3 separate regions of the Homo sapiens genome follow, and all the other regions are reported to be linked to region 2. The links are microRNA targets in miRTarBase. Many come from high-throughput screens and were not tested one by one. Region 2 holds a microRNA gene; each other region holds the end of a gene's coding sequence.

Evidence for each region. Region 2 holds the annotated microRNA hsa-miR-877-3p (UCCUCUUCUCCCUCCUCCCAG, at 5,016-5,036, opposite strand). A microRNA usually pairs through its seed, bases 2 to 8, with sites in the 3' UTR of a target mRNA and lowers its output. Matches are read on the target gene's strand: a 7mer-m8 pairs with bases 2 to 8, a 7mer-A1 pairs with bases 2 to 7 and ends in A, and an 8mer does both.
Region 1: miRTarBase lists BNIP2 as a target of hsa-miR-877-3p. The part of its 3' UTR that is shown has no 7-base or 8-base seed match.
Region 3: the mRNA of EIF1AD is a reported target of hsa-miR-877-3p. The part of its 3' UTR that is shown has no 7-base or 8-base seed match.

What each region holds. Positions count from the first base shown.
Region 1 is chr15:59,658,233-59,665,353 of GRCh38, reverse strand. It overlaps BNIP2 (BCL2 interacting protein 2), which reads left to right. Exons shown (of 10, transcript NM_004330.4): 10 at 1,234-6,208. The coding sequence ends at 1,285. Among named protein-coding and RNA genes, the nearest start is that of GTF2A2, 4.3 kb to the right of the region's middle.
Region 2 is chr6:30,582,312-30,589,432 of GRCh38, reverse strand. MIR877 (microRNA 877) reads right to left here and starts at 5,101; the gene lies at 5,016-5,101. It overlaps ABCF1 (ATP binding cassette subfamily F member 1), which reads right to left. Exons shown (of 25, transcript NM_001025091.2): 9 at 6,926-7,039; 10 at 6,245-6,367; 11 at 5,725-5,825; 12 at 5,543-5,628; 13 at 5,102-5,241; 14 at 4,867-5,015; 15 at 4,090-4,173; 16 at 3,751-3,875; 17 at 3,442-3,554; 18 at 3,128-3,299; 19 at 2,885-2,959; 20 at 2,722-2,792.
Region 3 is chr11:65,992,373-65,999,493 of GRCh38, forward strand. It overlaps EIF1AD (eukaryotic translation initiation factor 1A domain containing), which reads right to left. Exons shown (of 6, transcript NM_001242481.2): 5 at 6,978-7,025; 6 at 4,173-6,371. The coding sequence ends at 6,227. Among named protein-coding and RNA genes, the nearest start is that of EIF1AD, 6.2 kb to the right of the region's middle.

The DNA of each region.
Region 1 (7,121 bases), not on the chromosome of region 2:
AGGTGTAAGCCACTGTGTCTAGCCAATAATTAATTTATATTAGATATTTTTGAATGTTAAATTCTTTTTTTTTATTTTATTTATTTTTTTAAGACGGAGTCTCACTCTGTCACCCAGTCTGGAGTGCAATGGCATGGTCTCAGCTCACTGCAAGCTCTGCCTCCTGGGTTCAAGCGGTTCTCCTACCTCAGCCTCCCAAGTAGCTGGGACTACAGACGCGTACCACCACACCTGGCTAATTTTTGTATTTTTAGTAGAGATGGGGTTTCACTGTGTTGGCCAGGCTGGTCTCGAACTCCTGACCTCGTGATCCACCCGCCTAGGCCTCCCAAAGTGCTGGGATTACAGGCGTGAGCCACGGCATCCGGCCTTGAATGTTAAATTCTTAAGGCTTCTTACTGTCAAAACAAATTTAAGGCATTCACAAACTGTGTACCAATAAGTTTTGGAGAATAATTATGGGTTCTATAAGGATGCATTTTTTATCACTGAATTTTAAAATATTGATTGATAATTGGTGGCCTTCATGGCATTTTCATATTTTAGTTAACAGAATCATTTTTGAGGGAGTTGTTTTTCCTGCCATTTTCGTACCACCTGGATCCCTACCACAGCCAAGTTACAGGTCAAGATTTTAATATGCCATGTAATTTGAACTTTTAAGAAAGTTTATGGCTGGGCACGGTGGCTCACGCCTGTAATCCCAGCACTTTGGGAGGCTGAGGCAGGCAGATCACGAGGTCAGGAGATCGAGACCATCCTGGCTAACATGGTGAAACCCCACCTCTACTAAAAATACGAAAAATTAGCCGGGCATGGTGGCGGGCGCCTGTAGTCCCAGCAACTCGGGAGGCTGAGGCAGGACAATGGTGTGAACCCAGGAGGCGGAGATTGCAGCGAGCTGAGATTGTGCCACTGCACTCCAGCCTGGGTGACAGAGCAAGACTCCGTCTCAAAAATAAGAAAAAAAAAAAGTTTATATGCATTTGTATGTAAAGTATTTTATAATCTTTAAAGAAACAACGGTCACATTTCTTGCCAGTGTCCTCCTGCCTTTAAAAATTCTCTTTTCTGGTTGGGGAAATGATGTTTGGTAACTGTTTTTACTATGTCTGCTTCTTTGCAAAGCTTTGTCTTTAACAGAGTAATATTCTATGCTAAAATAGTCATTATTTTTAGAAAGAAAATTGTTCAGTTGCTGGTTTCTTATTTTATATATTCTTCATTAAACAGAGTTGATCAAGAACTTAATGGAAAACAAGATGAACCGAAAAATGAACAGTAAGTTTGGCATCTAGTCCAAACAAGACTGAAGAATGTGCTGATGGAGCAGTGCTGTTTCTGCATTCATAATGCATTTATTGGCCCATATTTTTATGTAACCTGTTACAAAATAGACTTGACTTTTTCATAATGGACTTTTGTATTATACAAGGGACTGTTCACTGCTGTACTGGTTTGCAAATTTCTTGAATTTAGCTCTTTAATAGCTAACTGTATTATTATCGTTTTATATTTTATATTGCTAAATAGAGAACCACACTTTATATAAAGTAGTTTTTGCATTTGTTTATTGAATGATGCATCTTCTTCGGTGAAATATTTATATGCATAAATGGCAAAGGAAAGAAATAATATATATTTTTATGTCATTGAGCAATATTTTTTAATGTGTACCTGTCTTATGGAAGAAATATGCAGGTATATAAGACCACGATTTTCTAAAGTGCATATTAGAATTTTTGTTTTTGTAAATGGTTAAATACATTTCCTGGGTAACTTAGGAAATTAAGTTTTTCATAAGGCAACAGATGGTTAAACTGATTGTCATGAATACCCAAAGATCATGTATATAATCGAAGTGTATTAGTACCATCCCAAGGTTTTTTTCTCATTTAACATATTTGTTTCATAATTCAGCAAGTACAGATGCAAGCGCATTGCACACTTTTTCCTTTCTAAACTTAAAGACAAGTCAAAAAGCCATTCTTAGAACTAGAGGATTTAAGAGGGTAGGAATTAGGGTTTGTATATATGTATATATGGGACATTTTATCTTCTGGCCCAAAGTCAGAACTTTATAAAAATCTTGAGTTTGTTCACTAATGTGAAATAAGCTATGTGTCCAGGGTATTGCTCCCCTGAGTGTATATGAGTGCTGAGTAGTATTGCAGAGAATGTGATGAGTTATTCACTGTCACAACTTTTTCTATAGAAAACAGGGGCTGCTTTTTAAACTCTCACTATGGGCACTTTACCAAAATACTTCCATATCAATTATTTGAACTCGGTAGTTGTTTGACCTAGTTAGATGTGGTGTTTATTCAAGTTTGTATGAAATCATGTTTGACAATACTGTAAATTAGGTTAATTTTGTAAGTCTTAGCATCATCATATTGTGCTGTTTTGGATAACACGTTTGTTACAAGCATTTAAACTGTTTCATTTGGTAGTACCTTTACATTGAAATAAATTGTGTTTGTGCCTCCAAACAAAAAGTTTAATTACCGACAAAATTATTTCTAAAACAACAGATTGATCTGATATTGTGTCATATACTTGAAAGGCTCATACACAGCTGGTAAGCATAATACCTTCCAAATTTGAAGGTCATGGCTACTCTTCAACCCTTCCTGTAAGGTATTTTACAAAACAGTGGCCTAGAGTAGCAAAATTGAAGTGGATGTGAGCTAACCTTTCAAGATTTAGTCTATCCTAGATTGAACACACATGTGGCTGTGACCATTCTCATGTACTTACAAACCTTCTGTTACAAAAGGGAACTTTCCTATATTTTTTGTCCTCCTCAGTCCTAAACTTGGCATGCTAACTTAAAACCAGTTATAGGAGAGAGATGCTGGAGGATTCCCAGGATGAAACATTCCTCAGCAGCCTCCTGACTTAACTCAGATCCAGCAGCTCTTGGCAGATCCTGAACTAATGTCATTACAGTGAATTGAGCCAAAACGATTATTGCTTGCTCACATTTTAGGAACACTTGTTGTTGAAGAAGCAAACTAACAATAACAAGTTAGGCATTCCTTCTGAATTTACCATATAAGGATTATGTATAAACAATTATATTGAATTTGTCATTAGATTCTATATTTGTAGACGATTTAACGTAGTCTTTCATCTGTACATCTTTATCTTGCTCAAAATGGGCTGAGGTTTTTAATAGGTGGTTTTCTACCACATTAAGTACTTGGTTCTTCAGTTTAAAAAATATGAAGAATAACTTCAACTCTTTTTTGCATTATTTTGATTTTTGATTTTGCAGTCATTGCTCCTAACTGTAGATACATGTTGCAAAAGTGATGTTTTTCTGAATTTTTTTTAAAAGTAGAAGACTATTCTGTTAAACATTAAAATTCAGAGACAACAGTGATAACACCTGGGATATAATGAAAATGAGGTGCTGTGAATCAGTAAACTAAAGGGATACCTGCTTTAACCTGCACCTTAATGGAATCTGGTATAGAGATGTACCCACAATAAATGTTTTATAAGATTTAAGATCATAATAGTAGGTTAGAGGAAGAGCATTTATTAAGTCTGTTGTTTCTAATCTATAGCTAAGTTAACATTTCCCATATTATTCCATTTTAATTTCCCATTACTGACCAAGGTGAAAGTATATGTGATTGTACTTTTATCTTTCTGTTGGGATCATGGATCTAATTTAACTGGCTTAATTTGATGCTTCTGTCACTAGGCTCTAAGTGCCCCTTTTTTAGTCAGAAGTTTTTCATGTGAAATAATTTGATTCTGTGTTCTGCTTGATCATACTCCTAAGCAAGCACCAAGGGAAGACGTTCTATTCACCCCACAATTTAAGCTTAACAATCTTTAACTCAGAGGGAGATATGAAGAAATATGATTCTAAGTAGGGTCTAGCAGAGGCATTGGAAAGTGATAAAAGTAGGAAGTAAGAGAAAGCAAACCTTTATAAAGAGATAAAGACATAGTTGTTACCTAAGATGCCACTGTATGTGTGCCCTCTCTTTTTTTTTTTTTTTTTTTGGAGACAGAGACTCACTCTGTCACCCATTCTGGAGTGCAGTGGCGCAATCCTGGCTCACTGCAACCTCTGCCTCCCGGGTTCAAGCATTTCTCCTGCCTCAGCCTCCTGAGTAGCTGGGATTACAGGCACACGCCACAATGCCCGGCTAATTTTTGTATTTTTAGTAGAGACGGGGTTTCGCCATGCTAGGCTGGTCTCGAACTCCTGACCTCATGATCTGCCTGTCTCAGCCTCCCAAATGCTTGGATTACAGGCTTGAGCCACCACGCCCGGCCATGTGTGTCCTTTTAAGGGAAGTACCATATGTGACTGCTGATGGTAACATTTCTTGTATGCAGCAGGAAAACCTGCAGGCTATACGCAAGGTATGTGAATAAAGACTGTGGATTGAAGGGGGAAAAGTTGATAATACATACCCATGATAAGAATTCATATTTTCTCTTTCTTTGTCTCTTCATACAGAAGCAAGTTCGAGCAGAGAAGGTTAGCAGTTACAGCACTTAAAAGTTTAGGATTGAGGGTTTTTGGTTGGTTTTTTTGTTTTTTCATATTTCACTGTTGCTGAACATTGATTTAGTCTTCCAAAATGGACATCACTAGTAAGTGCACTGAATACTGAAATATGCTGATTGGCAAGCATATATCTGTAGCTAGAATTTTTTTAACCGTAATTCCAGAATTTAAAAAGGTAAGAGATCTGCTTTTTGATAGAGGCCTTTTAAAAAGACTATATAACATTTCTATTTGGCTGTTTATGTGAATGCTCAGGGAATTTGGACATGTGTTTTATACAGAAGTGGCTTTTTATATTTCTTCAAGTGATAAATTAGCATTAGGACATATCAGATAGAACAGGCCAGTTTCCTGATGAGATTGGTAGAGATGTTACGGTAGGTTCATCCTTCCTTTTTCCATGTTATATGTGGAGAAGTGTTAAACTTGCTCAAGCAAATGGGAGTAGGAGATAGGCTGAAAATAGAGATTGCTACACCATTCTATTTTGTTTTCATGCCTGTTTTTTCTCCAATCCTATATGGACATTTGAGAAATGGACCACAAATCTGAGAGGGATAGAGTAAAAAGAGGCATTAATGTATGTACTCACAAGTTAGACCTATTTTGCTGTTAAAATAGGTCTGGTCTTGTTATAGGTCATAGGAATTGTGTAGTTTGAGTTGCTGCGAGAAAGAGTCAAGAACTTAGACTTGAATGGGAAGGCCAACTGGTGAGGGAAGTGGGGTATTATCTACTCAAATGTTCTAAGCTAATACAAAAGAATTACCTGGCAAGCATCCCCCTCTGCCCTTCTTGAAATTCTGAATGAACTTAGAATCAGATCAATGGTGAGACCCAGTTATGTAACTTTCCTTTGAAGTTCTAAAGGATAATTGAAAATAAAGTAGTCTGGCATGTTTAACAGTAAGGAGTGACACTAAAATTTGAATATAACAGTATGTTGCAACTATTTATAATAGACCTATTTATGTTTTGAGAACTAAGTAAAATGCTATGAAAAATTCACATAAAGCACGTAAGCACCAAATGAAAATCATTTCGTGCTTTCAAATTAATGATACTAGGCTTGTAGGATGTCTTAGAATCATGTTTAACAAGAAGTTAAAATATTTGCATTTTGAAATTTTTATGCAGTTTGGCTAAGGAGGAACTTGGAAAATAACATTCATCAGCTTCTACACTGCACTTTTTGTATGTGGACTTTGTAAAGTTTAATGTCCGTTTAACAGTTGCTTGTTTATTTGTGTAAACCTAGCTAGTAAATATTGATGATGTTCAGGGCCACTGACTTGCACAGCCCTTGGAGCACTATTCACACAGAACACAATTCAGAGTTTGTTAAGACATTAACACACTTTGATATCTATTCCAAAAATACTTTTGTTACCACAGGTTCATTGCTGTCATTTAGACAAAATTAATGTACTGTGATATTTTCCTACTCTTAAGATGATGTTGCCCAGCCGAGTACTGTCAGAAATTCAGTTCTGATGTCTGTGTGTGCAAGATATTAATGTGGTCCCTGTAAGAAATACCAGAGTTGGTCATGATTTACTAAGGAGATGTAATATTTTCTTTGACCTGTTAGGAATATAACTTGTGTCTTGATTTGTTGCACATCATATTTTTTGCAACATTAATGAATTTAAATAAATTAATTGGAACGTTCGTCTTTGTCTTTTTATCACATTTTTCTTTCATTATGCTACTAAATTTTTGCTTTGAATTATCCTATAAACCTCTTAAATAATTTCAGACCTTTACACTTGTTTCCCTTTCTATAGTCTAAGTGCTTCTATTCTTTGGGGATTAGAGAGTTCAGCCTGCTTTATTTTAACATCAAAACAATAATGAAACTTTGTGTTTCATAGTTGAGATTTTTTTTTAATTAATGGGGAATCCAAGGATGAAACCATGAGTGGCTTAAAATGAAAACATGGCTTTTTTTTTTTTTTTTTTTTTTTGAGACAGTTTCGCTCTTGTTGCCCAGGCTGGAGTGCAATGGCGCCATCTTGGCTCACCGCAACCTCCGCCTCCCAGGTTCAAGCAATTCTCCTGCCTCCGCCTCCCGAGTAGCTGGGATTACAGGCATGCACCAACACGCCCAGCGAAATTTTTTTTGTATTTTAGTAGAGACGGGGTTTCTCCACGTTGAGGCTGGTCTCGAATTCCTGACCTCAGGTGATTCGCTCACCTCGGCCTCCCAAAGTGCTGGGATTACAGGCATGAGCCACCGCCCCTGGCCGAAAACATGGCTTAAATAAGAAGAACTTGTTTAGTTCATAGACCTGCTCAGAGGTTCCAGCTGATACCACTTGGTGTTTTTTGTGGTTTTGTTGTTGTTGTTTTGCACATACTCTTTAATCACTATTCAGCTATTTTGTAGGATAAACTGCTCTACACATGACTGCTGGGTTTAAGCCAGTTAGTGTACCATGCACCCTGACACCTAAAACAATTTGTGATTTTGCAAACTTGAAATTTATAGTGAAGTATTTATCTTGCATATTAGATGCAAATTTTAAATATAACTTCTCCCAAATTAAAGTTCTTCATGAACTGGTCACAAACTAAAAACTTT
Region 2 (7,121 bases):
ACGGGATTTCACCATGTTAGCCAGGATGGTCTCGATCTCCTGACCTCGTCCATACACCAACTTTTCTGAAGGAGAGACAAACACCAGAAATGGGCCAGGGACAAGTATGCATAAGAAAAGGAATAGGGGCTGGGCACGGTGGCTCATGCCTGTAATCTCAGCACTTTGGGAGGCCAAGGAAGGCAGGTCAGGAGGCACTTAAGGTCAGGAGTTTGAGACCAGGCTGGCCAACATTGTGAAACCCTGTCTCTACTAAAAATACAATAATTAGCTGGGCATAGTGGGACATGCCTATAATCCCAGCTACTCAGGAGGCTGAGGCACAAGAATGGTTTTAACCCAGGAGGTGGAAGTTGCTGAGATCGCACCACTGCACTCCACCCTCGGGGACAGGGGAAGACTTTGTCTCAAAAAAGAAAAGGAACAGGGATGTTCCCCTAATATGACAAAGGCATGGTGAGCAAAGTAAAAGAGTTAAGGGACAAAAGGGGAGTTAAGCAAAATGGAGGACAAGAGGGACAAGCAGGAGGGACTAACCACAGCCAAAGAACACCTGCTCTCCATACAGCGAGACTCACGAATGGTACATCGTAAGGGCCTCATGTGGCAAGTTTAGTGTTTTGGGGAGAATCTAATAATACCTTTCTAAAGATCTAATCTCTGGATATGAGAAAATGGCCTCTCAACACTGCTAGAGAGAGCAGAAATGGCTACAAACTTTCTAACACACTAGATGGCAATATATTACAAAAGTTCAAATAAAATGGTAGAGTTTGCCGGGCGTGGTGGCTCACACCTGTAATCCCAGCACTCTGGGAGGCCGACGCAGGCAGATCATGAGGTCAGGAGATCAAGACCATCCTGGCTAACACGGTGAAACCATCTCTACTAAAAATACAAAAAATTAGCTGGGCGTGGTAGCACGCGCCTGTTGTCCCAGCTACTCGGGAGGCTAAGGCAGGAGAATCGCGTGAACCCAGGAGACGGAGGTTGCAGTGAGCCAAGACTGTGCCACTGCACTCCAGCCTGGGTGACAGAGTGAGACTCTGTCTCAAAAAAAAAAGGTAGACTCATATGAAATAAGTAATTGCATGGAAAAATGCTTGATATATTTGGAAAAATCTAGCTACACAACAACTCATATGACAGCCCATTTTTGTTAAAAATTATATGCACATTTGCAAAGAAAAAAGGAGAAAGATATCCACTAAAACATTAATACTGGTTATCTCAGCTGGGAGCGGTGGCTCACGCCTGTAATCCCAGCACTTTGGGAGGCTGAGGCGGGCGGATCACAAGGTCAGGAGTTCGAGACCAGCCTGACCAACATGGTGAAACCCTGTCTCTACTAAAAATACAAAAAGTAGCTGGGCATGGTGGGGCGTACCTATAATCCCAGCTATTCAGGAGGCTGAGGCAGGAGAATATCTTGAACCTGGGAGGTGGAGGTTGCAGTGGGCCAAGATCGCACCACTGCACTCCAGGCTGGGCGACAGTGAGACTCCGTCTCAAAACAAAATAACAAAAAAAAAAAACTGGTTATCTCCAGATTTTTCTCTTGACTTAAGCATTTTTTTTTTTTTTTTGACAGAGCCTCACTCTGTCACTTAGACTGGAGTGCAGTGGCACGACCTCGGCTAACTGGAACCTCTGCCCCCTGGACTCAAGCAATTCTCCTACCTCAGCCTCCCGAGTAGCTGGGACTACAGTCGTGCACCAACATACCCAGCTAATTTTTGTATTTTTAGTAGAGATGGGATTTCACCATGTTGCTCAGGCTGGTCTGTTTTTTTTTTTTAGACGGAGTTTTGCTCTTGTTGCCCAGGCTGGAGTGCAATAGCGCAATCTCAGCTCACTGCAACCTCTGCCTCCTGGGTTCAAGTGATTCTCCTGCCTCAGCCTCCCAAAATAGCTGGGATTACAGGCATGTGCAACCACGTCTGGCTAATTTTGTATTTTTAGTAGAGATGGGGTTTCTTCATGTTGGTCTCAAACTCCTGACCTCAGGTGATCTCCCACCTCGGCTTCCCAAAGTGTTGGGATTACAGGTGTGAGCCACCACACTGGGCTCAGGCTGGTTTTTAACTCCTAAGCTCAAGTGATCTGCCTGCCTCAGCCTCCCCCAAAGAGTTGGGATTATAGGCGTGGGCCACCACGCCAGGCCAATTTTTTTTTTTTTTTTTGAGATGGAGTCTCGCTCTGTTGCCCAGGCTGGAGTGCAATGGTGCAATCTCAGCTCACTGCAACCCCCGCCTCCCAGGTTCCAGCAATTCTGCCTCAGCCTCCTGAGTAGCTAGGATATAGGTGCGCGCCACCGCACACGGCTAATTTTTGTATTTTTAGTAGAGGCGGGGTTCACTATGTTGGCTAGGCTGGTCTGGAACTCTTGACCTTAGGTGATCCCTGCTGGGATTATAGGAGTGAGCTACTGTGCCTGGCCCGTTTATGCAATTTTTAATCGTTCTATAAAAGACATATATTTCTTGTATAACCAAAACACGTGGGTGTGCCCCCTAGTTCTATCTTAATTCTCTTAGCTCTCCCCCCTGAACTGATCTAAGCTCTTTCCTCCTCTACTGCCCCTCTTAGGGAAATGAATCATCTATCATGAGTTCTGTATTTAACTCTACATTCTCGAGAGGCTCCCTGATTCCAGCTTCTGGCAAAAGCAGCTGTGTCTTCACATTTCTCATGCTCTCCCTCCTTGGCTCCAGGACTCACCGGTGTCAGCTTGCCAGTCAGCAGCAGGAGTAGCGTACTCTTCCCCACACCATTAGGGCCCACAATGCAAACTGCAAGATGGAAGACAGGTGGTCAAAGAGGTCCCCAGAGACTCTCCCTGTGGCTCCTGCTACACATCCCTGAGGCAACCCCGCCAACTCACTCCTTGAATCCATGTCGATGCCAAAATCCAAGTTCTTAAAGAGTGGTTTCTGTCCCTGGTAGCCGAATGTCACACCTGAAAGCCACGAAAAGAAGCAATTTATATTCTTTTCAGTCCCTGCAAAGTCCCTCTCATGTGCTGGCCTTGGAGAACAGGAGCAATCTCAGCCTTGGTGGAGAATTTAGGGTGCACATACATGCTTCCGGTGCTTCCTGTGGAGCAGCAGAGGCCCGCGGCACTCACCATGCAGACCCAGCACTGGAGGGCTGAGTGGTGGGGGGTCTGGAAAAGTGAAGCGCACAGTGTACTCCTTAGGGCGCTTCAGGAGCTCAGGGGCCTCCTGGGATTCCTCATCTTGGTTTTTCCGTCGGCATTTCTGCTGCTTCCGAGTCAGGGCTTCCTTCGTTTGTTTTTCCTGGAGAGGAAGAGGAAAAAAGAGAAACCTGAGCCCTGCGCGGCAGTCCTTGAAATGTAGGCCAGCGTTCCAGAGTCTCCTTCTTCCTCCACTGCCAGGAGAGAACAGTGGCCCCCAGCCCAGAAGTCCCTCAGGTGCTCACCGCCTGCTTGGTGGACTTCCCGCCTGCCTTCAGCTCCTTCAGCTTTTTCTCTTGCTTCTCATACTGTTTCAGCAGTTCTTTCTGCTTCTGCTGGTACATCTTTTTGAAGGTCACTGGGGCAGAAGAGGGGACCAGGCATCAGTGGTTGCTCCTCTTCCCAGCAAAGGGACAACCAGGGACTGGTGGTGATGGGGTAGGCATCACTGTCTGGAATTCTGACAGGATTCAGTTTATCTAAATAGGCCCTCCCACTCAGGCCTCTTTTCGAGGTTCTATCTCTTCCCTGCATCCACACACAATCCTACTTACTGTAATTGCCCCTATAGTAGTGGAGCCGCTGGGCATCGAGGTGGATGATATCAGTGCAGACATCATCCAAGAAGCCCTGGTCATGGGAGACGATCAGCAAGGTCTTCCGCCAGCCCTGGAGGTAGCTGGGTTTCAGAGAACAGGGTGTAAGTGTCACAGTGGTCAAGTGAGAGAGAATTCAGAGGAAGCAGGCAGACAACGGGGGCTGGGAGGGAAAGGGGGGTCTGAATAGAGCTCCACTCACAGGCACAGTGGAGAAGGGCTAAAGGAAAACAGGGCAGGGAGGGAAGGGGAAGAAAGTGCAGAATGGGAACCAATGATGCAAAGGCCGTAACGCACTTATTAAGCCAGATGACAGCGTTGAGGTCCAGGTGGTTGGTGGGCTCATCCAGCATCAGCAGTGTGGGCTCCATGAACAGTGCCCTAGAGGGTGGGTAGCAGAGGGCAGGGTCAGGGAGAGAAAGATCCTTGCTCAGACAACCCCAGAGAAAACTCGGAGATAGAGCCTGAGACCATGAACACTCCTTCCCAAGCTCTCCTCAGAGAAGTTCTCGGGCAGGATACGGTTTAATTTTTTTGAGACAGGGTCTCGCCCTGTTGCCCAGGCTGTCGTGCAGTGGCACAATAAGGGCTCACTGTAGTCTAAATCTCCCAGGTCTAAGTGATACTTCTACTTCAGCCTCCAGAGTAGCTGTGACCACAGCGTGCGCCACCATATCCAGCTGATCTTTAAATTTTTTGTAGAGACAGGGTCTCCCTATGTTGCCCAGGCTAGGATATGTTTTCTTCCCCCTTTTGTGAAGATAGAGTCTCACTATATTGCCCAGGCTGGTCTCAAACTCCTGGGTTGAAGATAATCCTCCTGCCTCTGCCTTCCAAAGTGCTGGGATTACAGGCGTGACCCATTGCACCCAGCTGCAGGGTATGTTGATGAGAACTCACCACCAAGTAGGGAGATAAATAGAGAAAGACCCTAAGTTCTCACAACACAGATAGTAAGGAGGGAGAGGTAAGCCTTGAGCCTCCCTATTGGCCTTGGAAGAATGAGAAGGGAAAGAGGAAAAGGGCCCCGGTGGTCTGAGGCTGGAAGGGAGGGCAGTGAGGTGAATGGCCCACCTGGCCAGGGAGACACGCATGCGCCAGCCCCCTGAGAACTTCTGTGTGGGTCGATTCTGCATTTCAGGGTCAAAGCCCAGGCCAGCCAGGATCCGCCGTGCTTTGGCCTCTGCAGCTGCCGCCCCAGTGGCCCGCAATTCCTCATACACCTGGGAGGAGGGAGAAGAGGACACACGTCTGAGGGTCCCAGGAACCCCCAAGTCTTTGCCCGTGTCCCCTGCGCCATCTCCTCTACCTTCTCTAGCCTCTCAGCAGCTGTGTCATCCCCTTGTTCCAGCTGTCCCTGAAGCCGCCGCTCCTCTTCCAGCAGCTTCAATCGCTTGGTGTCAGCTCGAAGAACAGCCTGGACTGCTGGTGTCTCATCTGCTACCACCTCTGGGAGGCAGAGGGAGAACAGTCAGGCAGCCTCAAGAGCCAAGAGTCTCATCTTTCTTTCCCTTCAATTACATTTCTGTTTTGCCTGACCCTGCCCAGCTCTTTGTACTTGTTCCAAATAAAACACTCTCAAGTTCCTCATTGACCCTCCCCTCCTTTCCTTAGCATCCCTTTCCCGGTCTCCAGTCTCCCTCCACATCCCTTCCAACTCCATAGCCACAATTTCTTCTATTCTTGGCTGGCTGGCTTTTCTACCCAACTGCCCACCCCACCAAGCCCCTTTTCTCCCCAGTGGTCTCACCCTGCTCACACAGCAACACATCAATGTTGGGAGGGATGCTCAGGGCTCGGTTGGCAATGTGCTTGAGGAGTGTGGTCTTGCCCTTGCTGGGGAATAAAAGCTATTAGGACCTGGCCACCACTGAGAAATCTCTTCTTTTCCCTCCAGGCCCTTTTTTGCCTCCAGCTCCCTCCTCTTCTCACCCATTGGGTCCTACCAGCCCGTAGCGGCGGCCGGCTACAATGTACAGGTCTGCATTGACGAACAGCTCCTTGCCATGAGCGGAGATGCTGAACTTCTCCAGCTGCAGCCATCAGGAAAGAGGTGGCAGAGGGAAGGGATGATCACATGAAAATTCTCCCTTTGGGACAGGAGCGGCCACTTTCTCCCTGCAGGGAAGCCTCTGACAAACCGCTACCTCCAGCATAATCCCCTTCCTCTCCCCACAGCCGGTCCCCGCCCTGTTCGCTGCCTGTAATGGGAGCCCCATGCATCCTCAGCTAGTCTAGTCTGTCCCACACTATTTTCTGCCAAGGGTGGACCCCACTTCTACTGGTTTTTCTATCTTCTTGCTCAAGTTGGCAGAACCTAAGGTGTGGAAAATGCCTCCAATCTTTCTTCCCACTGAACTAACCCATTCACACACCACAGCCACTCAGGGAAGATGAGAGAACTGGCTCTTCCCTAGGTAAGTGGACTGGAAGGGGCCCCTTGAGACCTTACCTTGATGTCAGATGCATTTTCTAACATGGCTTGGCGGGAGGACATCTCCGCCTGGGACACGGAGAAGTCATTTTCAGCTGCATTGGCTGCTTTTAATGAAGCCACTTGGCGCTCATACTCCATCTGAGAAGGTAGGAAAAACTACATTTGAAGCCACAGTCTACCAGTTTCCCATCACCATGAAACAGCCCATGCTGGCTGGGCATGCTGGCTCACGCCTGTAATCCCAGCACTCTGGGAGGCTGAGGTAGGTGGATCTCTTGAGCTCAGGAGTTTGAGACCAGCCTGGCCAACATGCTAAAATACTGTCTCTACAAAAAATACAAAAATTAGCCAGGCATGGTGGTGCCACCCATAGTCTCAGCTATTCGGGAGGCTGAGGTGGGAGGATCACTTGAGCCTGGTAGGTTGAGGCTGCAGTGAACAGAGATCACGTCATTGCACTCCAGCCTGAGTAACAGTGTGAGACCCTGTCTCAAAAAATAAACAAAAAACCCCAAAGTGAAACAGCCCATGTCATCAGACATTGAGATAAGGTTCACAGAACACAATTATTTTCTTACTCCGATTGTTTTACTTGGAGTAGCCCCCAAACCTTTCCTTCGTGTCCCCAATCGCATGTCCCCTAGTTGAAGTATTTAAAAATCCCCTACTTTTGACCGCTAAGAACCAAGGTCTTACCTGTTTTTTCAGCTTTTTCTTCTCCTTTTTGCTAAGATGAGCATAGGGATCATCTGCCTTAGACTCTCCTCCTTCCTCCTCCTCTTCTTCCCCTTCTCCTTCTTCCTCTGAACCCTGTGAGAACCCGGGGATGGTCAAAACTAGGGACTCCTGGCTGGGCGCGGTGGCTCACGCCTGTAATCCCAGCACTTTGGGA
Region 3 (7,121 bases), not on the chromosome of region 2:
TGTAGAGGTTAGTCCTGAAGTGACAGAGGTACAGATTCTGAAGGGCCACAAAGTCTCAAGCATAACTGCAAGAGAAGCCAGTAAGTACTATTAGGCAGCCAGTCACAGGGACTGGCCATGACATCGGGACAAGGGGCTCTTACATCAGATCTCAGCTCACTCAGGGAGATCTATTCATACATGGTTGGATCCCACCATTCAGTTGGAAGAACAGAGGTGGAATCCAGCTTCAGAGAATGACATAGGAAAGTAGCATGCAGAATACAAGGACCCTACCTCCATCAGTACCCTTAGCTACAGCCCACAGAAGCTGAATGGCTGGTAAGAGATGAAGAAGTGGAAACGAAAAGGTTTTAGGGGGAAAAAAAGATGTTACTAGGTGGATCACAGTATCACTGAGAGAATGGAGAAGAACATAAGACCAAGTTTACAGATAAAACGCCAAAACACACACACACAAAGTGGGGAACAGTCAAAGGACTATTTAGAAGAAAACATATAGCCCTGAATATATTAGAAAACAAATTGAAATTAAATTAGCTAAGCACACATCTCAAGAACCCAGAATGAGCAAATAAACCCAAAGAAACGAAGGAAAAGTCCAGTAAGGAAGACCTCTTGCAAAGCTAGCCAAATAAAATACACAAAATATAAACATATTTTGTTGATTTCACCTGCCCTCACCCCTTGCCCCACTTTTTCTGGTAATAGAACCTCTCTATTCCATGGGAAACATATAAAAATTACTTGTGGCTCATCCTGCCCCACCCCAGTCCTCCACACCCTCCCACCCCCCGGCCCTGGCCACAGTGACTGCTCAAGCACAGCAAGTGACCTGAGGAAGATCAATCGCCCTTCACGGAAATACAGGGATCCTCAAGAGCCCCAAGGGGCTCTGTCTACAAGGACTGTGTATAAACTTGAGCGTCCTGGCTGGGCGCAGTGGCTCATGCCTGTAATCCCAGCACTCTGGGAGGCCGACGCAGGCGGATCACGAGGTCAGGAGATCGAGACCATCCTGGCTAACACGGTGAAACCCTGTCTCTACTAAAAATACAAAAAATTAGCCGGGCGTGGTGGCGGGCGCCTGTAGTCCCAGCTACTCAGGAGGCTGAGGCAAGAGAATGGCGTGAACCCCGGGGGGCGGAGCCTGCAGTGAGCCGAGATCGCGCCATTGCACTCCAGCCTGGGCAACAGCGAGACTCCGTCTCAAAAAAAAAAAAAAAAAAAAAACTTGAGCTTTCTACAGAAAACATCTGTAGGAGGGAAAGAAATTAATCAGCCGGGAGCAGAGATGACAGAGATAAATGAGAGAGCCTGAGGAATTCATGCTGCTGGCATTGGTTCATCCCTGCCCGATGCGCACCACTCAGAGACCTCAGGTCAATGAGCCTTGCTTACTTCTCCTAATTTGAGTTCAATTTTGTCATTTATAAGAAAGTCCCGCATACGCCAGGATGGTGGCTCTCACCTGTAATCCCAGTACTTTGAGAGGCCAGGGCAGGAGCATCACTTGAGCCTGGGAGTTCGAGACTAGCCTGGGCAACATAGGGAGAGCCTGTCTCTACTAAAAATAAAAAAAATTAGCCAGGTGTGGTGGCGCGCACATGTGGTTCCAGCTACTCAGGAGGCTGAGGTGGGAGAATCACTTGGGCCTGGGAGGTCAAGGCTGCAGTGGCGCCATGATGGCCTGGGCAACAGAGTGAGAGGCTGTCTCAAAAAAAAAAAAAAAATTACTGGGTGCAGTGGCTCACCCTTGTAATCCCAGCACTTTGTGAGGCTGAGGGGGGCCAATCACCTGAGGTCAGGACTTTGAGACCAGCCTGGTCAACATGGCAAAACCCCATCTCTACTAAAAATACAAAAATTAGCTGGGTGTGGTGGCGGGTGCCTGTAATTCCAGCTACTTGGGAGGCTGAGGCAGGAGAATCACTTGAACCCGGGAGGTGGAGGTTACAGTGAGCCGATACTGCACCACTGCACTCAAGCCTGGGCGACACAGTGAAACTCTGCCTCAAAAACAAAACAAAAACAAACAAACAAAAAAAGAAAGTTCCAAATAATACAAATATTATGCATGAACTTTTGCCCAAAAAGCTTAAATATATATGAAATATGATCCTGGAATGATACAAATGATCAAAATTGACTCAAGGATAGAAAACTTTAGACAGAACACAACTGAATAAACTAAAAGGCAGTGAAAGATCCACCCCTGAAAAAGGTACCCAGCACAGATGTTTTTGTAAACAAGTTCACAACGTTGAAGAAACAAATGCCTGGCCTATAAAGTATTCAAGCCTGAAGAAAAAGACGTCTCCAAACCCATTTGCAAGGCTAGCATAAAGCTAATCTCGAAATAGAACAGGAAGGTCATTTTTTAAAAAGAGGGAGGGGATTGGCCCAGGGAGAGAGATAAAACTCCTAAGTAAATACATAATATACTGTAAAACTAAGCAAGGTTTATATCAGAAAGTAAGGTGTGTCCAACATTAGGAAACCTATTACTGTAACTCAGTACAATCATACAATAAAATCTTTTGATTTTCTCCATAGATGTCAACATTCATCACTGTTAAACAAAAGCGAAGGAGAAAAAAAAAACAGTAAGATGGAACAAAGAAAACATCTTCAGTCTAATGAAGATCATCTACCGGAAGCCCAGAGCAAGCGTCCTACCTCAGGACGCAACGTGAGAACCATTCCCACTGAGAAAACATCAATCAAGGGTGCCATGCAACCACGGTGGAGGTCCTGGCCTCTGAGATTCACAAGAAATAGACATGAGTGTAAAGGAGGAGATAAAACTGTCATTAGTGGGATACGATTTGGCTATCTATAAAGCCACAAGATCAACTGAAGAACTGCGCATTCGACAAGGTGGGCAACACAAAGATGGACACACAGGTGGATGCCAGGGATGGGGAAAGGTGATTTCCACAGATCCTTCACTACCAGTAACTAGGACTTTCATAAAACTCCTAAGACTAAACCAAATTGGAAGTAAAGGCCCATTTGAAGACCACACCACCTTACCAAAGAACATACCTCATTTCTGGACAGGAAGATGAAAAACTGTTAATTTTTCTACAATATTTATTTAAACAAAACTAAAAATAAACTGTTAAGATACCACTTCTTGGGTGGACATAGTGGCTCACGCCTGGAATCCCAGCCCTCTGGGAGGCTGAGGCGGGAGGATGGCTTGCCCAGGAGTTTGAGACCAGCCTGGGCAACATAATAAGACTGGCTCTACAAAAAAAAAAAAAAAAAAAAATAGAAAAAGAAAAATTAGCCCGATGTGGTGGTGCACACCTGTGGTCCCAGCTACGCAGTAGGCTGAGGTAGAAGGATCGCTTGAGCCCAGGAGGTGGAGGCTGCAATGAGCCATGATTGCATCACTGTGTTCCAGCCTGGGTGACAGGAGTGAAACCCTGTCTCAAAAAAATAAAAGTTGAAACTCCGTCTCTACTAAAAATACAAAAATTAGCCGGGTGTAGTGGCAAGTGTCTGTAGTCCCAGCTATGGAGAGGCTGAGGCAGGAGAATCGCTTGAACCTGGGAGGCGGAGGTTACAGCGAGCTGAGATCACGCCACTGCACTCCAGCCTGGGTGACAAAGCAAGACTGTCTCAAAAAAAAAAAAAATGCAGTATGGGCACACGGATCAATAGGACAGATTAGAAATTCCAAAAAAGATCCATATATATGCAGGAATTTATGTTTTAAAAGATATTTCTGGCCAGGCGTGGTGGCTCATGCCTGTAATCCCAGCACTTTGGGAGACCAAGGCAGGCAGATCACGAGGTCAGGAGACTGAGACCATCCTGGCTAACAACGGTGAAACCCCATCTCTACTAAAAATACAAAAAATTAGCCGGGCGTGGTGGTGGGTGCCTGTAGTCCCAGCTACTCAGGAGGCTGAGGCAGGAGAATGGCGTGAACCCGGGAGGCAGAGCTTGCAGTGAGCCGAGATGGCGCCACTGCACTCCAGCCTGGGCAACAGAGCGAGACTCCGTCTCAAAAAAAAAAAAAAAGAAATATTTCCAGTGAGCAAAGAATGAACCTTTCAAGAAATAGTACAGGGACAAGTGACTTTCCCTTTAGGGAAAGTTTGCTACCTCTCAGAAAAAACAAACTTCAGATGAATTAAAGATAGATACACACACATACATATCTTTAACCCATCTCGTTTATTTTTTGTATATACATCTACATACATTTTATACATTATATTCATATATACATATATACAAATGTATATATGTTTAAAGCCACGCTATAAGAGAAAGTAAATGAGAAACAGACAAATGAAGTGGTAGCTGGAGGACGTGGGAATCAGTACAGGTTTTCACGCCTGTTTCAGAAATGGGAGATTCTACAGCACGCTCGACACTAACACATCACATCCATAACATATCACATCCAATAGACAGGACAGCCAAAAACACAAAACAAAAAAAGAATCAAATACCCACACCCAGACACAATACTCAACAACACAAATACCCGACCAAAGTCTTTAAGAAAGCAAAAGAGGCCGGGCACAGTGGCTCACACCTGTAATCCCAGCACTCTAGGAGGCCAAGGTGGGTGGACCACTTGAGGTCAGGAGTTCGAGACCAGCCTGGCCAACATGGCAAAACCTCGTCTCTACTGAAAATATAAAAATTAGCCAGGCATGGTGGCACACGCCTGTAATCCCAGCAGTTTGGGAGGCTGAGGCAGGAGGCTCATTTAAGGTCAGGAGTTCGAGACCAGCCCGGGCAACATGGCAAAACCCCGTCTCTACTAAAAATACAAAAAGTTAGCCAGGTGTGGTGGTGCACGCCTGTAGTCCAAGCTACTCGGGAGGCTGAGGCAGGAGAGTTACTTGAACCCAGTAGGTGAAGGTTACAGTGAGCCGAGATCACACCACTGCACTCCAGCCTGAGCAACACAGGGAGACACTCTCTCAAAAAAAAAAAAAAAAAAAAAAAGATAGTCTCCAAAACACAAGAGGTAAGGTTTAAGTCCCATTGGCTTACGACAGGAAGATATGTGCACATCTGCAGAGCTGGTAACAGGGAGGCAGGCATTCCCTCTGATGGTTGCTGTTTCTTAATGAGGCATGTGTTGTGGTAACTACCACAAGGGGGAATTGATAGATAAGACAGAAGTTTTGAAACAGACATCCCAGAGTAGATCTGCTGGGCAGTGCTTAGTGTCCATCTGAGGTTTGTAATGATAAACGTAAGGTACAACTGGTGGCCAGGCTGGCTGTTTTCTCACCTAATGATGGTGACTTGGGTTTGGGCACAGAGGTGAATGATTGGGTTTACCCAGGGTTAGGGTTTTACTAGCGGAACAGAATGGAGGGAGACAGAGGGGTGTAGGGTGGACTACGGAATTGATGCTACACAAGAGGGAAGTGAAGGCAGAAGGTTACTCATGAGAATGTCAGGGCTGGTTAGAAGAATGAAGGGTGAGGGTGGAAAAGCAGCCTCTATTTAAAAGGTTATAAGACAATCAATGTCCTCAGGGAATAATCAGGTTTCAAATAAAGTCAGGAGATGGATGGACCATTCAAAACAAAGTTAAGGATAGAGAGATTTGCCAGCCACCTTCTGGAAGTGATAGATGGTGCAGAGTGGGAGAGATGAGGTCGTATGTGGGGATGGACACAGTAGCTGGAGGTGAGCACTCCCGTACACAGGGTGACTAGAAAGGCGGGGAGAACAGCACGAGGCACCATGGGCTCCTGAGCGTCTCTTAGAGGCAGGTGGGTGTTAGGTCCTAGGGCTGTCATCCTGAATGCTTAAATTGGTATGAACTGCAAGCAGGCAAGGAAGCAGGAGTGCTCCCAGCTGTTAAACACATGCAAGAAGGCCCAGAGCACGGCCTGGCACTTTCTAAGTGCCCAATAAGAAAGAACAAACCACCTGGGAAAGACTCCAGCCATTTCCCATTTCCTCCCCATTCAGCCCACCCACCCACAAGGTCTCTAATAAATAGGGAGCAGTTTTTCACTTCATCACAATCTCCCTCCCCCGAGAGAGCCACTCAGACACCAGAACAAGTCACCAACCCACCAGGGGTTTAATTCTCTGAATCAAAAGATCAGTTCAGAGAGGAGCCCTGCTTTGTCCTCATGCAGGGGTGAAGATGTGCAGAGCACCCTGGGAATGTCCAAGCCCAGAAGAGCCAGGGGCCAGTCCCTGAGCAAGTGGAGAATTGGGTCCTGGAGTCTCAGGCTGCCTCCTCCTCTTCACTCTCCTCCTCACTCTCATGATACTGTCTGCGGTTTGTGTTAACAAACAGGTCAGAATCATCTTCTGAGCTGGACTCCTCTCCTGATAACTGTGGCTCAGCTGGGAGTTCTGGTTGAGTTTGTCTGCACGAAGGGAAGAGAGCAGGGTTAGCCCAGCGCCTTCTGGGAAAATAATATCTACAATCAAGGAGTTCCAAAAAAAGGACCATCCGGCCCAGCAGTCAGGGCCCTACAGCACCCTTTAAAGACTCAAACAAGGGACACAGGAGAGCAAACAGTGGGGAAACGTGGCCAAAGAAACAGGCTAAAGACTGACCCCACTCCCCAAACGTGTGCCACAGCCATTTGTTTTAGTTAGAAATAATGATTCTACGACCACCAACTAACACTTAATGGACCCATATCACATAACAGATACTGCACTAAGCAATTTTACAAGCCATCCACTTCTTTAATCCTCACAAAGCTCCCATTTTACATATAAGAAAATAGAGTTTGAAGGAATTAAATAACGTGCTTAAAGTCATTCAGCTTTAAGTGGCAAAGCCAAGATTTTAACCCAGAGCATCTGACCTTCAAACCCCATTCATAACCATGTTATACCACATGCTTAGGAGCTCTCAACAGATACCCTATGTAAGGAGGAAAGAAGGCTCTATTTTTCCCTCAAGGCACCAAAGCATGAACCCCTTATTTTCCATGTACCCCACCCCAAGGCTTGTTCCTCACCTGTTCCTGTTGTTGTGTTTCTCAGCCACTTCAGAGAAGGCCTCAGGCCTATGCCAAGAGATGAGCCAAAGTCAGAAAGGACAAATAAATTTCTCACAAAAGAGCTGCTTCCAGCTGTGTCTGCCTGGGATGCCATGACCTTCC